Linked DNA regions of Homo sapiens. The protein of the gene in region 2 purifies or fractionates together with the protein of the main gene of each other region. This does not show direct contact. Each region holds a gene or a part of one and is shown on either strand. Other genes may lie near its edges.

The links. The genes of interacting proteins can lie anywhere in the genome.
Region 1: the proteins of SH3RF2 (region 2) and CPAP purify together in Homo sapiens (affinity purification with mass spectrometry; one large-scale study listed by BioGRID and IntAct). This does not show direct contact.
Region 3: the proteins of SH3RF2 (region 2) and NSMAF purify together in Homo sapiens (affinity purification with mass spectrometry, with the first as the bait; one study listed by BioGRID). This does not show direct contact.

Annotation. Positions count from the first base shown.
Region 1 is NC_000013.11:24,905,319-24,910,043, reverse strand, and holds part of CPAP (centrosomal P4.1-associated protein), read left to right. Parts: coding exon 1-254; intron 255-1,917; coding exon 1,918-2,026; intron 2,027-2,850; coding exon 2,851-2,953; intron 2,954-3,083; coding exon 3,084-4,698; intron 4,699-4,725. UniProt on the Homo sapiens protein: Plays an important role in cell division and centrosome function by participating in centriole duplication. Inhibits microtubule nucleation from the centrosome. Involved in the regulation of slow processive growth of centriolar microtubules.
Region 2 is NC_000005.10:145,994,852-145,999,576, forward strand, and holds part of SH3RF2 (E3 ubiquitin-protein ligase SH3RF2), read left to right. Parts: intron 1-1,486; exon of another isoform or gene 1,487-1,573; intron 1,574-2,365; exon of another isoform or gene 2,366-3,649; intron 3,650-4,725. UniProt on the Homo sapiens protein: Has E3 ubiquitin-protein ligase activity. Acts as an anti-apoptotic regulator of the JNK pathway by ubiquitinating and promoting the degradation of SH3RF1, a scaffold protein that is required for pro-apoptotic JNK activation.
Region 3 is NC_000008.11:58,656,511-58,661,722, forward strand, and holds the start of NSMAF (protein FAN), read right to left. Parts: upstream 3,344-5,212; 5' UTR 3,122-3,343; coding exon 3,063-3,121; exon of another isoform or gene 2,837-3,062; coding exon of another isoform or gene 2,685-2,836; exon of another isoform or gene 2,342-2,684; intron 1-2,341. UniProt on the Homo sapiens protein: Couples the p55 TNF-receptor (TNF-R55 / TNFR1) to neutral sphingomyelinase (N-SMASE). Specifically binds to the N-smase activation domain of TNF-R55. May regulate ceramide production by N-SMASE.

The DNA.
Region 1 (4,725 bases), on a different chromosome or scaffold from region 2:
TCCAGGAAATACCACCACTGGAGAGAGAGCCACATGCTGCTTCCCATCATATGTCTACCCGGACCCAACCCAGGAAGAAACATACCCGTCCAACATTTTATCCCATGAGCAAAGCAACTTCTGTAGAACTGCTCATGGAGATTTTGTCTTAACTTCAAAACGTGCGTCTCCTAATTTATTTTCTGAGGCACAGTATCAAGAAGCACCTGTGGAAAAAAATAATTTAAAAGAAGAAAACCGTAACCATCCTACAGGTGAGCTACTTATGTTTCTCTCTTCTGTGCTTATAGTGTTACTAAGTTGTCCTAAGATGAAGCCTTTCCATGTTTTTTCTTTAAAAATTATTTTTTCAGAGATGGAGTGTTGCCGTGTTGCTCAGGCTGGACTCAATCTCCTGGGCACAAGTAATCTTCCCCCATCAGCCTCTCAGGTAGCTGGGACTATAGGCACGTGCTACCCTGCCAGCTCTTTCTGTATGGTTATTTTTTTTTGTCCCCTGTGGCGTGTTTTTTTTTTTTGAGACAGTCTCGCTCTGTCACCCAGGCTGGAGAGCAGTGGCACAATCTCAGCTCACTGCAACCTCTGCCTCTCGGGTTCAAGTGATTCTTGTGTCTCAGCCTCCCAAGTAGCTGGGATTACAGGTATGTGCCACCATGCCCAGATAATTTTGTGTATTTTTAGTAGAGATGGGGTTTCAACATGTTGGCCAGGCTAGTCTCAAACTCCTGGCCTCAAGTGATCTGCCTGCCTTGGCCTCCCAAAGTACTGGGATTGCAGATCTGAGCTACTGCACCCAACCATAATGCCTTGTTCCTAATTTAGAGTTAATTCATCGGTGTGGAAAGCTCAAATATGTTTTTCTTCTTTTTTATACAACATGTTTCCATAGCCTTTTATTTTGGAAAATTTCAAACATCTAGAAAAGTTGAAAGACCACTGCAGTTATTACTGATATACCCACCACCTAGATTGAGCAGTTAATATTTTGCTGTATTTACTTTGTCAGTGTATGTATGTGTATATATATCTTTTACATGTATATCCTTATCTTTACTTCTATATGTGTATAATTTGCTGAACCATTTCACTGAAAATAATATGCAGGTATCTTGTTACTTCATTCCAAATATTTCAGTATGCATCAAGCAAAAATTAGGACATTCATCTGTATAACCACAGTGCTATTATTGTATCTAAAGAAATTAATGATAATTCCTTAATATTCAAGTCCATTTTGGGATTCCCCCAGTTATCCCAAAATATCTTTTAAAGGTGCTTTTTTTTTAAAGGATCCAATCAAATTAATGCATATCCAGTCAAGTTCATGTATTACGTTTGATTCTTACAACTCTTTAGCCTTTTTAATCTCTAGAAAACCCCACACTTTTTTCCTCATGACATTAACCTTTTGAAGAATGTCAAGTGTCTTTATTTTATTTTATTTTATTTTTGAGACAGGGTCTTCCTCTGTCACTTAGGTTGGAGTCCAGTGGCACCATCTTGGCTTACTGCAACCTCTGCTTGCTCTCAGCCTCCCAGGTAGCTGGGATTACAGGCATGTGCCACCACGCCTGGCTAATTTTTTTTTTTTTTTTTTTTTTTTTTTTTGTAGAGACGGGGTTTCGCCACGTTGGCCAGGCTGGGCTCGAATTCCTGGCCTCAAGTGATTCTCCCGCCTTGGCCTCCCAAAGTGCTGGGATTACAGGTGTGAGCCACCACACCCGGCCTCAAGTGTCTTAATTGGAGTTTTGTAGTTTCTCTTAATTATATTAAAGAATTCCTTGAGTGTTGTAAAATCTGTGATATACATTACTTTTAATTAAAAAAATGTTTTAGCATAGTAACTTGTAGAATTCTCATGTTTTAAGACATTAATATGCTTTTCTTGAGCTAAATTGTTCTTAATTTTTATCTCAGGAGAAAGTATCTTATGTTGGGAGAAAGTGACAGAACAGATTCAGGAAGCAAATGATAAGAACTTACAAAAACATGATGATTCCTCAGAAGTGGCTAATATTGAAGAAAGGTATTGTTCGTGTTGAAAGTGAGAAATGTGACTATTTAGTACAATAGCTAGCCTTTATTATTGAACACTTTCTTTGTTTGAAAGATCTATATTTTTCTGGTTTTTGCTTGACTATGCTTTTAAGGTTAAAGATACAACCTATTATGTACTGTCAACAACAAAAGAGGTTGAGGAGATATGTCAAGCTGCCTTGACATTGTATTCTCGAAGCTTTTTCACTTAAGAGAAACATCTGGATAAAATCAATTTTCTCTCAAATAGTTAAATCCTATTTTTGGAGAAGGGAAAAATTAAGTATTGACATCTCCCATTTGGTGTCACTTATCAATTATAATTGCATTATCAGTTTAGTTACAGAATTTTAAAATATGGCAAAGATTAAGTATTTTATATTTTAAGTAAGTTGATTATTTTAAAAATTTATTTCAAAATTTTTAATATAATATGGACAAAATGACTTTTCTGATTATTGTTCTCACATTAAGGGCCTTTCTTAATTAAAAAAATGCATATTTAGTGATCTATTTTTGAAATACATTTTAAAGTTATTTGATGAATATGTTACTCCATGTGTTAATCTGTGGTCGATAGATGGACTTCAGAAGGGTTCTTAGGACTCCAAAGTCATGTGAAGAGTGTTGTATGTTTCTTTATTTTAAGGTGTGGAGAGGGATTGTGGCTTTTGTTAGGTTCTCAAAGGGAGGCACTGATTTTGGGAAAAGTTAGTTCTCCATGTTGTCAAGGGTTTCTATACCAGGCACACTAAGTGTAAAATATTCACACATTATGATTTGCATGTTAAATAACTTTCTGTTTCTAATTAGGCCCATTAAAGCTGCTATTGGAGAAAGGAAACAGACCTTTGAAGATTACTTAGAAGAACAAATTCAGTTGGAAGAGCAAGAACTGAAGCAAAAACAGCTGAAGGTCAGCAATTGTGCTCTTCTGATTAAATCATTCTAAGGCTTTAGAGATTTATCTATAATTTGCCTTAAAAATAACTTTGAGATCACTTGGATATACCAAAATTAATTCAAATATTATTCTTTTATTTTAGGAAGCAGAAGGACCATTGCCAATCAAAGCAAAACCAAAACAACCATTTTTAAAACGAGGAGAAGGTTTAGCTAGATTTACTAATGCCAAATCTAAGTTTCAAAAAGGCAAAGAAAGTAAACTAGTGACTAACCAGAGCACTTCCGAGGACCAGCCGCTGTTTAAAATGGATAGACAGCAACTCCAGCGGAAAACCGCTCTTAAAAATAAAGAGCTGTGTGCAGACAACCCTATCCTTAAAAAGGACAGTAAAGCTAGAACCAAGAGTGGTTCTGTCACCCTCAGTCAGAAGCCGAAAATGCTGAAGTGTAGTAACAGGAAAAGTCTTTCTCCGTCAGGATTGAAAATACAGACGGGGAAGAAATGTGATGGGCAGTTTAGAGACCAGATCAAATTTGAAAACAAAGTCACATCTAATAATAAAGAAAATGTAACTGAGTGTCCAAAACCTTGCGATACTGGCTGCACAGGGTGGAATAAGACACAAGGTAAAGACAGACTTCCTCTTTCAACAGGGCCGGCCAGCCGGCTGGCTGCTAAGAGCCCCATAAGGGAGACCATGAAAGAGTCTGAATCTTCTCTTGACGTTTCTCTTCAGAAAAAGTTAGAGACTTGGGAACGAGAAAAGGAAAAGGAAAATTTGGAATTAGATGAATTTTTGTTTTTAGAACAAGCTGCTGATGAAATATCATTTTCTAGTAATTCCTCATTTGTACTGAAAATCTTAGAAAGGGATCAACAGATCTGCAAAGGTCACCGGATGTCTTCCACCCCTGTCAAAGCTGTGCCACAGAAGACAAATCCGGCAGATCCCATTAGTCATTGTAACCGCAGTGAGGATTTGGACCACACTGCACGTGAGAAGGAGAGTGAGTGTGAAGTCGCACCCAAACAACTTCATTCATTGTCCTCAGCTGATGAATTGAGGGAACAGCCTTGTAAAATCAGGAAAGCCGTCCAAAAGAGCACTTCTGAAAATCAGACTGAATGGAATGCACGTGACGATGAAGGTGTTCCAAATAGTGACAGTAGCACTGACTCTGAGGAACAGCTTGATGTTACCATAAAACCATCGACTGAGGATAGAGAGAGGGGCATCAGCAGCAGAGAGGATAGCCCACAAGTCTGTGATGATAAGGGGCCTTTTAAGGACACCAGGACCCAAGAAGATAAAAGGAGAGATGTTGATCTGGATTTGTCTGATAAAGATTACAGTAGCGATGAGTCTATCATGGAAAGCATAAAACATAAAGTGTCTGAGCCCTCGAGATCCTCATCCCTAAGTCTGAGTAAAATGGACTTTGATGATGAAAGAACTTGGACTGACCTTGAAGAGAATTTGTGTAACCATGATGTTGTTCTTGGGAATGAATCCACTTATGGGACGCCGCAGACATGCTACCCTAATAATGAAATAGGTATCCTGGACAAAACAATAAAAAGGAAGATTGCACCAGTCAAGAGGGGAGAAGACTTGAGCAAGTCCAGGAGGAGCAGAAGTCCTCCTACATCGGAGCTGATGATGAAATTCTTTCCTTCTTTGAAACCAAAACCAAAGTCAGATTCACACTTGGGAAATGAACTCAAGTTAAACATAAGTCAAGACCAACCACCTGGTGAGTCAGAGCATTATAAAATATGTA
Region 2 (4,725 bases):
CACTTAGCAAAGAATCTGGCACAAGAAAGAAGCACTCAGTAAAGGTTAGCTATTGATATTATCATTATGCAAATCTAAAGGGGCTTAGATCTTTTCTTCTTTATCTTCTCATTCTCCCTTTCTTTCCTTTTCTCTTTTCTGTTTTTCATAAATAATAAAAAAAAAGCCTCACAGTTCATTCAGCAAGGTGGAAGTTTATTTAGCTCTCCACCAAAAGTCTGGATGTGAAGTAATCCAGGATGGGTGTGGAAGCTCTGAAACCCAGGCCCCTTCCCTATTAGGTGTGGCCCTCGTCCTCAGTATTCAAGATGGCAGCTAGAGCTCTAGGGATCATGTCTGCATTCCACATAGCAAGATGGAGGAGAGGAAAAGAAAACTCCGGACGGATGCTTCCTAAAGGTTGCTTACTCCCACACTGGCCTGGACTTAATCACCAGAAAGGCTAAAAATGTGACCAATATTCCAGGTAGTCATGTACCCAGAAAAATGTGATATTACAATGGAAAATTGAGAGGAAGAAGTATGGAGGAACAATTATTGTTCCCTGATGTACCCAACCCCGGGGGTCTAACAGATTTGGGTCATTCCCCAGAAACCCATTCTCATCCAGCTTTTACGTGCTTATTTCTCAGGTAGGGAACACCTTCCCCAAAAAAGTTAGTTGCATAGTTTGCTTATCCTACTCAGCTTGGCTTACTTTCTAAATTCCTCTCATACCTTTTACCTCTCATCCACCAACTTCATTCATTTTCTAACTGTCCAATTTTAATAAGCAATACAATTATTTTATTATAGAAAAGTTAGAGAACACAGCTAAGCACTTAGAAAAAAAGCGTTTTTTCAATATTCAAAAATCTCACCACTTAGAGATAACCACTTCTAAAATATTGGCATATAGTCATCTAACATTTTCCCTAGATAAAAAACATACATATGTATTTATAATGAAAATCTAGTCTACATAATTATTCTTAACCTCTTCTGTTACACTTAATGGTATATTATCAGTAACGCTCAATATTATTAATTATAGAAAAACATCAATTTTAATGACTGCAAAGTTTTTCATTGTATGGGTATGGGTGTATAATAATTTATTCAACCAATTCCCTGTTTATTCCACAGCATTATGTTAAACCCCCTAGCACATATATCTTTGCTCATTTGTCCACCAGTTTCCTGGGGATGAGCTGTGTTCCTGTGGTTTTTTCACCCCTGGGGTCTCCTTACTTATCTGGGGACCAGCAGAAAAGGACACCTCCACCATTCCATCAGCAAAGTAATGTTGGGTCTTATCTCTACCACTAAGCTGCTCGGAATTCTTCTTTCAAATGATCATTGCGGATTCAGGAGATCCATGAAGACCTAAATTAATGCCTCTCTATACCCCACTGCATGAATAGCAAGATTATGAACAGCAAGACTGCTACAATGCGAGGTGATTACATAATCCCACTGCTTGGAAAAGCACAAAATAAAATACGACCTTAGGTGACTGAAGCACTTCCTCTTAGTCTGTTAGAACTTGCAGTTTACCCAGCAGACTTCGAGCAAGACTGGAGTGAGGCCATTTCTATGTGAAAAAAACAATTTCAATTAGTAAAAATGCATTTGACTGAAATAATTATTTAGACAACTGATTTGACAAACGATTATGCTTGAGCTGATTTTTTTTAAAAAACTGACGATTGATCTCTGACTAATTGTTTCTTTGTCTCAGCTGAGCTTCCTAATGATCCAAATGCTCATTTTATAAATGAATACAGTTTAAGAAAGATTAAGTAACTTAGCCATGATTACACAAAAGGAAAGAAGTAGAGCCAGAATTCAAAATCAGTATTCAGACCCAGAAAGAGTCACTGACTCCCATCTCATAGACGTAGAGTCAAGTTCACAGCCCTGTTCCTTGGGTAGTGATTAAGAAAAGGGGTTCCAGCATCAGGTAATCTGAGTTCATGTCCCATATCTGCCATTTCCCAGTTGTGTCATCTTATGCAAGTTAATAAACCACTCTGTGTCTCTGTCACCCTATCTTATAAATGGGGATGATGCGTGTCTATCTCCAAGGGCTGCCTAGATTAAATGAGATGATCCACATACACACTTAGCACATAGGAAGTGCTCGGTAATTAGTTATTAATGTTATGTAGGTGTCGTCTGAAAACCTTGGCCAAAAGGGTCATAGACATGGCGGTCATCAGGGTTCAGGTGTACATGTGAAGGTTTGTTACACAGGTAAACTCGTATCACGGGCATTTGTTGTGCAGGTTATTTCATCACCCAGCAATGAATGAGACTTCCTGTTGCTCCTCATTCTCCCCAGCATTTACCATTGTCAATGTCTCAGATTTTCACCCTGCTAGTAGATGGGAAAACTGACAACCATGCCTGCAAGTCTGATACATGCATCTGTAAATGTACATGGAACCAAAGAAGAGGAATCCAAAAAGCAGCTAGTGAAACCAGAGCAGCTCCCCGTATATACTGCACCACCGCTCCAGTCTAAATATGTTGAAGAGCAGCCTGGTCATTTATAAATGGGCTTTGCTTCCATCTACACTGCAACTGGTCATTATACTGGCTGGTGCAAGGATGTTTATGTCTTTGTGAAAAATGGGATAATGGATACAGTACAATTTGGGAAAGATGCTTATGTCTATCTGAAGAATCCTCCTCGAGATTTTCTTCCGAAAATGGGAGTTATTACGGTTTCAGGATTGGTGGGCTTGGTTTCAGCGAGAAAAGGTTTTAAGTTTAAGAAAATTACTTATCCTCTGGGACTGGCCACTTTATGAGCAACTGTTTGCTACCCAGTTCAGTCAGTAATAATTGCTAAGGTAACAGGGAAAAAGGTATATGCTACAAGCCAGCAAATTTTTGAAGCAGTTAAATCATTGTGGACAAAAAGCAGCAAAAAAAGAGTCACTCCCTAAACCTAAAGAAAAAAAATTAAGCTAGGATCCCCCGCCGAAATAGAAGTACCTGCAAAAACAACTCACATCTTGAAATGCTCAGTGCCCTTGCCAACAGAACTCAGCTCTGAAGCAAACACCAAATCAGAATCCACCTCAGGTGCTACACAGTTTATGCCTGACCCCAAGTTCATGGATCACAGGTGGTCCCACCCAGAACATATAGACAAGTATAGCACTGGAACCTGAAGCAGACTGCATAGAGAGACTACATAGAAAACTACAAGATGTATGAAGTTGCAAATAATGATGAAAAAAATCATGTAATGGGTAACTGATACATAGAGTATTATTTAAACCAAGTTTTTCCCTTACCTCTCCAAATGTGCAATTTGATAAATTGCATAAGTGGTTAACACACAAACTGTGAATGCAATGCAAACAATATTAAATGATTGATGAGGAGACTTAGGTAGAAGTATTAGCTTGAATTTAATGAGCTTTAGGGGCCCATAGTTAAAAAAAAAAAAAAAAAGACATGAACTCCAGTGAGACTAAAATCTGAAAATGCATATATGTATGTATAAAGACATACATATTTATATGTATAATCATATATTTCTGCTCTAGCTTTCCCTAATTAATGTCAGTTAAATTAGAATGGTGTGTAGAAAGATGTGTTTCCCTCTTTTTTTCCATTTCCTAGAGCTGGAATAAAATATCCATGTTTTATGGGAAAAAAAAGTATTATGCAGGTATGCCCCAGAGATAGTGTAGGTTCAGTTTTGGACCACCACAATAAAGCTAATACCATAATAAAGCAAGTCAAACACTTTTTTTTCATTTCCCAGTGCATATAAAAGTTGTATTTGGCTGGGCATGGTGGCTCACGCCTGTAATGCCCTTTGGGAGGCCAAGGTGGGTGGATCATGAGGTCAGGAGATCGAGACCATCCTGGCCAACATAGTGAAACCCCGTCTCCACCAAAAATACAAAAATTAGCCAGGTGTGGTGGTGTGCGCCTGTAATCCCAGCTAGTCGGGAGGCTGAGGCAGGAGAATCACTTGAACCCGGGAGGTGGAGGTTGCAGTGAGCTGAGATCACACCACTGGACTCCAGCCTGGCAACAGAGCAAGACTCCATCTCAGAAAGAAAAGAAAACAAAAAAGTTGTGTTTACACTATGCTGTAGTCTATTAAGTGTGCAATAGCATTATGCCTAAAAAACAATATATCTAACTTAATTTAAAATACTTTATTACTAAAAAAAAAACCTTAATGATGATCTGAGCCTTCAGCAAGTTGTAATCTTCTTGCTGGTGGTGGGTCTTGCCTCAATATTGATGGCTTGTTGCTTCACCTTGCATTTTTATGTTATAGAGACAGCTTCTCTTCTTAAACCTCAGACTATCTCTGCCAGCTTCAAACTTTTTTTCTGCAGCTTCCTCATCTCTCTCAGCCTTCATAGAATTAAAGAAAGTTAGGATCTTGATCTTGATTAGGCTTTGGCTTGAGGGTCTGTTGTGTCTGGTTTGATCTTCTACACAAACCAGTCAAACTTTCTCCATATCGGCAATAAGGCTGATTCACTTACTTATCATTTATGTATTCACTGCAGTAGCACTTCTGATTTCCTTCATGAACTTTTCTTTTGCATTCACAGCTTGACTGTTTGTCACAAGAGGCCTAGCTTTTGGCCTATCTCAGCTTTAGTCATGCCTTCCTCATTAAGATTAATCATTTCTAGCTTTTGATTTAAAGTGAGAGATGTGAAACTCTTCCTTTCACTTGAAAATTTGTAGGCAATTGTAGGG
Region 3 (5,212 bases), on a different chromosome or scaffold from region 2:
ATAAATAATATACTTTTAAAAATTTTAGTATAAGGGCCGGGCACGGTGGCTCACGCCTGTAATCCCAGCACTTTGGGAGGCCAAGGCGGGTGGGTGGATCACGAGGTCAGGAGATCGAGACCATCCTGGCTAACACGGTGAAACCCTGTCTCTACTAAAAATACAAAAAATTAGCCGGGCGTGGTGACAGGCGCCTGTAGTCCCAGCTACTTGGGAGGCTGAGGCAGGAGAATGGCGTGAACCCAGGAGGCGGAGCTTGCAGTGAGCCAAGATCACGCCACTGCACTCCAGCCTGGGCAACAGAGCGAGACTCTGTCTCAAAAAAATAAAAATAAAAAAAATTAGTATAAGTATATACCAAATATTGCATATACTATTGCATTTACTTATACTAAAAAAATTTTAGTATAAGTACATACCAAATATTGCATATACTATCGCAATTACTTATACTAAAAAATTATTCATTGTTTATCTGAAATTCGAACTTAACTGGGTGTGCTGTATTTTATCAGATAATCCTAGCTGGAATTCTTCCTTTATCACCTCTCACAGACAATACACCACACCAAGACCTGTCAATCACACGTCCTAAAAACATCTAGAATCCATCCACTTTCCTCCATTTATTCTGCCACCACCTTGGTTTAAACCACCAATGCAAGAATCTCCTAGTCAGTCTCTATGCTTCTGCTTTTGCAGGAATATCAAAGTACATCAACCTAACAATAAGAGAAATAAATGCTCATTTCAAGTTTCTTTTCTGGGGTCAATATTTGGTAGCTCTGGAAATCTAAAATCCCTTAATTAGCATGAGAGCCGCCAGTGAACTTACAATGAACAGGTTGAGGCCTCTCATGGGTAACCTCTGAAACAACCCCTCTTCAAGTTTTCCAAGAAAAGTAACAATTTTCCTGGGTATGCTGGAGCCAATGACGAATCCAATCCATTTGCTAATTTGTGTTTATTGATGCAAGGGGATAAACCCGGAAAAATCTGGGCAGAAATGGTAAATTTGGGGCTTAATAAAGTTGCCTTAAAATATTCCTCTGTTTCAGAATGAATTCTAAGATTTATAAAAGAGACTCCTTGATTCCAGTGCATACCTGATGTGAGACAGATTCCTGTCATTCAAATGCATATTCTATGCATTGAATGGAGTATGCCCATCAGCCCAGGTTGCAAAGCCATGGGGCAGAGCACTAAACAATTTGGGCACTCAGCAAGTTATAATTCAAATAAATATAAAACACATGGCGCCAACTTTTTCAGATGACTGATGCTCAGGAACAGTTGATGCCTCCTGACTGGATAGATAAATGTTTTGGTTGCCAAGAGCTAGAGTTCTCTCTGAACACTGCCAGCCTATCACGTTGTTGTCTAATCAATGAATTCTAACAAAGCAGCATATACATGGAAATGCAAGTACAGGTTTCAAGGTTTGTGTGACACCACGGAGCTGTATGAGCTAGCCAAATTGAACACAAATTACTTCATCGAAATAACAGCCAGAACCAAGGAAAAAACGTTTCCCTGTATATCAAAAAGGCCAATATGAGTATTGGCACGAATGACTCATATCATACAACATGATGCCAATTCAAGTGTGTCAAAGTTCTCACAATTTAAATATGAATGTTCACCCACTCAATACAGAGCACCAACAAGTCTTAATATTGTTGGTACTAAACAAAGAATCTCCACTCAAGCTCTTTCCACAAGAAAAATGCATTACAAATTCAGTCAGAAGGGCATCCCCAAGTGTGAGTTACATAGTTAGGGCTCAGTTATTTAATAAACAACCCTTTCTGTGACTAAAACCTAATCACATCACCAAAAACATTTTTGAAAGCCATATCTGAGATACGTTTTCTGTGTATCGTATCTTCTTCTCTACAGTAGAAAAATGACATTTCGTACTGTGGACACACTGGTTAGACCAACATTACAGATTAGAGAAAGATGAATGTCTGGATCAAAGGGGTCGAGTCAACCCTTATAAAACAAGTGTAGACAAATCTTGAAGTCTGCACTTGTATTCCCACGTGTAACCTGCTTTGCTGGTATTCACTGATGAGACAACGTGACAGGCTAGCAGCACTGGAAGATCTGTGGCTCTCACAATCAAAACAGTGTGTCTGTAAAATGATTCAGCCCCCCTTTCCTTTTGGCATCTGAGCTGCAGACCGAGCAAGTTGTTTCTGTCACCAAAAATGCCCTGGGAACTATACATAGAGCCGAAGTGAGCTTTCTTATGAGACTTCCCTTGGGGACAGGTCCAGCATATCTGAAAGGGAACTGCTGTGAGACCATTTTAGCTCAAGGGATCCCAAATCCTTACTGGGATGCTGGTGAGAATGAGTGCTCCGCTGCCGCACCGCGATTTCGACTGCAAAGCTTTCCAACACAAGGTCCACTGCGCGGGGAGCAAGTGTTTGGGAGGCAGGACCTTGGCTTTCCTCAGAATCAGGCCTTTCCGGCGGCCCCCCTCCCAGCCTTCCAGGGCATGGAGCTAGTCCTGTGTCTAAAGGAGTCGGCAGGAAAAAGGCGCGGCAATGCGAGTGGGTGGTCGCCGGCCTGCTCGGTGCCGCCCGGCGACCAACTCTGCGGCGCCGGCGCCGAGTGCCTGGACCCGATTAAGGGGAAGGATTAGAAAGGGGGTGCCCGCCGGGCAGCGTACTCACCCTCCCCTGCGAACGCCCGGGCTCGCGTGCCGGGATCCACGCCCGGACCCCGCGCGGCCTTCCGGGTGAGCTGCCCGCGGCCGCCGGGACCTGCACTGCCGGATAGCTCGGCATGCCTCGGCTCCGCGGTGGAATCTGGCCTGGCCCGTCATCCAGTTCCTGTCCCCGGCAGGCTCCGGCCCAGACCAGGCCCCCGGCCTCTCACCCCGACCTCAGGTTTCCGCCACAGCCCCCAGCCCAGGCCCTGGACACGCGTCCGGCCCCTGCCTCCGTGCCCGGCCCCCACGCCGCCTCCCGTCCCTCAGATCTCCGGCCGGCGTCCCCACGACCGGCCCCGACTAGGCCCCCGGCTGGGCCCTTCTTCAGCTGGGCGCGCACCTCTCCTTGGAGTAGAGCTGCAGCTGCTGCTCCTGCTGCTTCTTCCGGATAAACGCCATGGAGGGTAGGCGCGGGCGGGCGCAGAGCGCACAGGCAGGCCCCGCCGCCGCCTGCCGAGGAGGTCCGGAGGAGCCGGGGAGGGCGGGATTGGTGGCCGGCTGGGGAGCGCGCGGCTGCCGGCCTGGCTTCCCCTGCGGCGCCGCTGGGCGGCCGAGAGCCCGACGCGGCGTCCCGGCCGCGCTCACCGCAGCATCCTCGCGTGGGGACTCCGGCGGCACCGTGACTCAGGCCCGGAGGAGGGGCGCGCGGTGACACGAGGCGCCCCAAACTCAGGCCGCCTCAGAGGATCGCCAGGGCCAGCGGCCAGACCAGGATCCGACCTCACACACTAAACGTTTCACCACTTTACCAACCATTGCAGGCTGCGTTTTAAATATTTTACGCATAAAAAGGGATGCTGGCCCATAAACCACCAATCTGTTGGCCACAAAGACTTGAAATAACAACGTTTTGTGTCCTCCATTGTGAAAAAAAAAAAAAGACGGAAGTTAAAGGGGTGAAGGCAACTCAGTCGTAACTATTCCAAATACACCAGGAATAAGTGGAGATTTATAGCCAAGGAGCAAGGAGCAGGTGTTCGGAAAACTGCTAAGAGGAAACATCAATTCTGGGGGAAATTCTGGCTGAACCAACCTAACAGGAGTCCCAGTGAAGGCAGGCCAGGGGGTCAGATACTAAGGGTAGGAGTAAAGAATTTTGATCACATATGGAGGGTGGGGGATTCTTGCTAAACTGCCGTGGCAGTGTTACTTCCTAACACTGCATTTACAAGGAAGTGCACACAAGGACCTGGGAGAAGATTCAGAAGCCTAACTGAAGTTTGGCCAAGCAAAGAATCTTTAACACAGTCTCTTGATTGTTGAGATAATTGCTCGCATGATTTTTTTTTATATAACAGCTTTATTGGGATATAACTCACATACCAAACAAGTCAACCATTTAAAGTATACCATTCAGCGATTTTTAGTATATTTCCAGATATGTTCAACAATCACCACAATTTGAGAACATTTTCATCACATGTAAAAGAAACCCATACCCTCTAGCTGTCACTCTTCCTAACTCTACCCTCCAAACCCCAGCCCTAGCAAACAATAATCAATTTCCTGTCTCTATGGGTTTGCCTATTCTGGATATTTCATATAAATGGAGCCATACAATATGTGGCCTTTTGTGTCTGGCTTCTTTCATTTAGCGTAATGCTTTCAAGGTTCATCTATGTTGTAGCATGTATCTGTACAGTACTTCGTTCCTTTAGATTGCTGGAGCATATTCTGTTGCATTTTGTTTATCCATTCATCAGTTGATGGACATTTCAGTTGTTTCCACATTTTGGCTATTGTGAATAAGGCTGCTGTACACAGTCATGTACAGTTTTTTTATGGACCTATGTTTCCATTTCTGTTGAGTGGAATTGGAATCTAAGAGTGGAATTGCTGGATGTGGAGGCGAAAGCAGCTCCATCTTGGAAGCTAATCCTCCGTGTTGACTTCTGATTGACCCCAGTTCTGGGAAGGCCTCTAAGATTTCTACTTTATCTATTGTTCCTTGTGTAAGAGCAGGTATCTACCCAGTATGTTCTGTCCTTAATTCAAACAACTTGATGTTATTATACTTCAATTGTCCTACACATCCCTTCTGAACCACCCCTCCCCTATGGTATATAAGCCCTAAGGGGCTGGAGTGATGGCTCATGCCGGTAATCCCAATGCTTTTGGAAGTTGAAGCTGGAGGATTCCTTGAAGCCAGGAGTTCGAGACCAGCCTGGGCAACAAAGCAAGACCCTGTCTCTACAAAAAATAAAAAATAAAAATTACCTGGGTACAGTGGCACACACCTATAGTCCCAGCTACTGGAGAGGCTGAGGCAGGAGGATTGCTTGAAGCCAGGAGTTCGAGACCAGCCTGGGCAACAAAGCAAGACCCTGTCTCTACAAAAAATAAAAAATAAAAATTACCTGGGTGCAGTGGCACACACCTATAGTCCCAGCTACTGGAGAGGCTGAGGCAGGAGGATCACTTGAGTCCAGGAGTTTGAGGCTTCTGTGAGCCATGATCGTACCACTGCACCCCAACCTAGGCAATACAGAG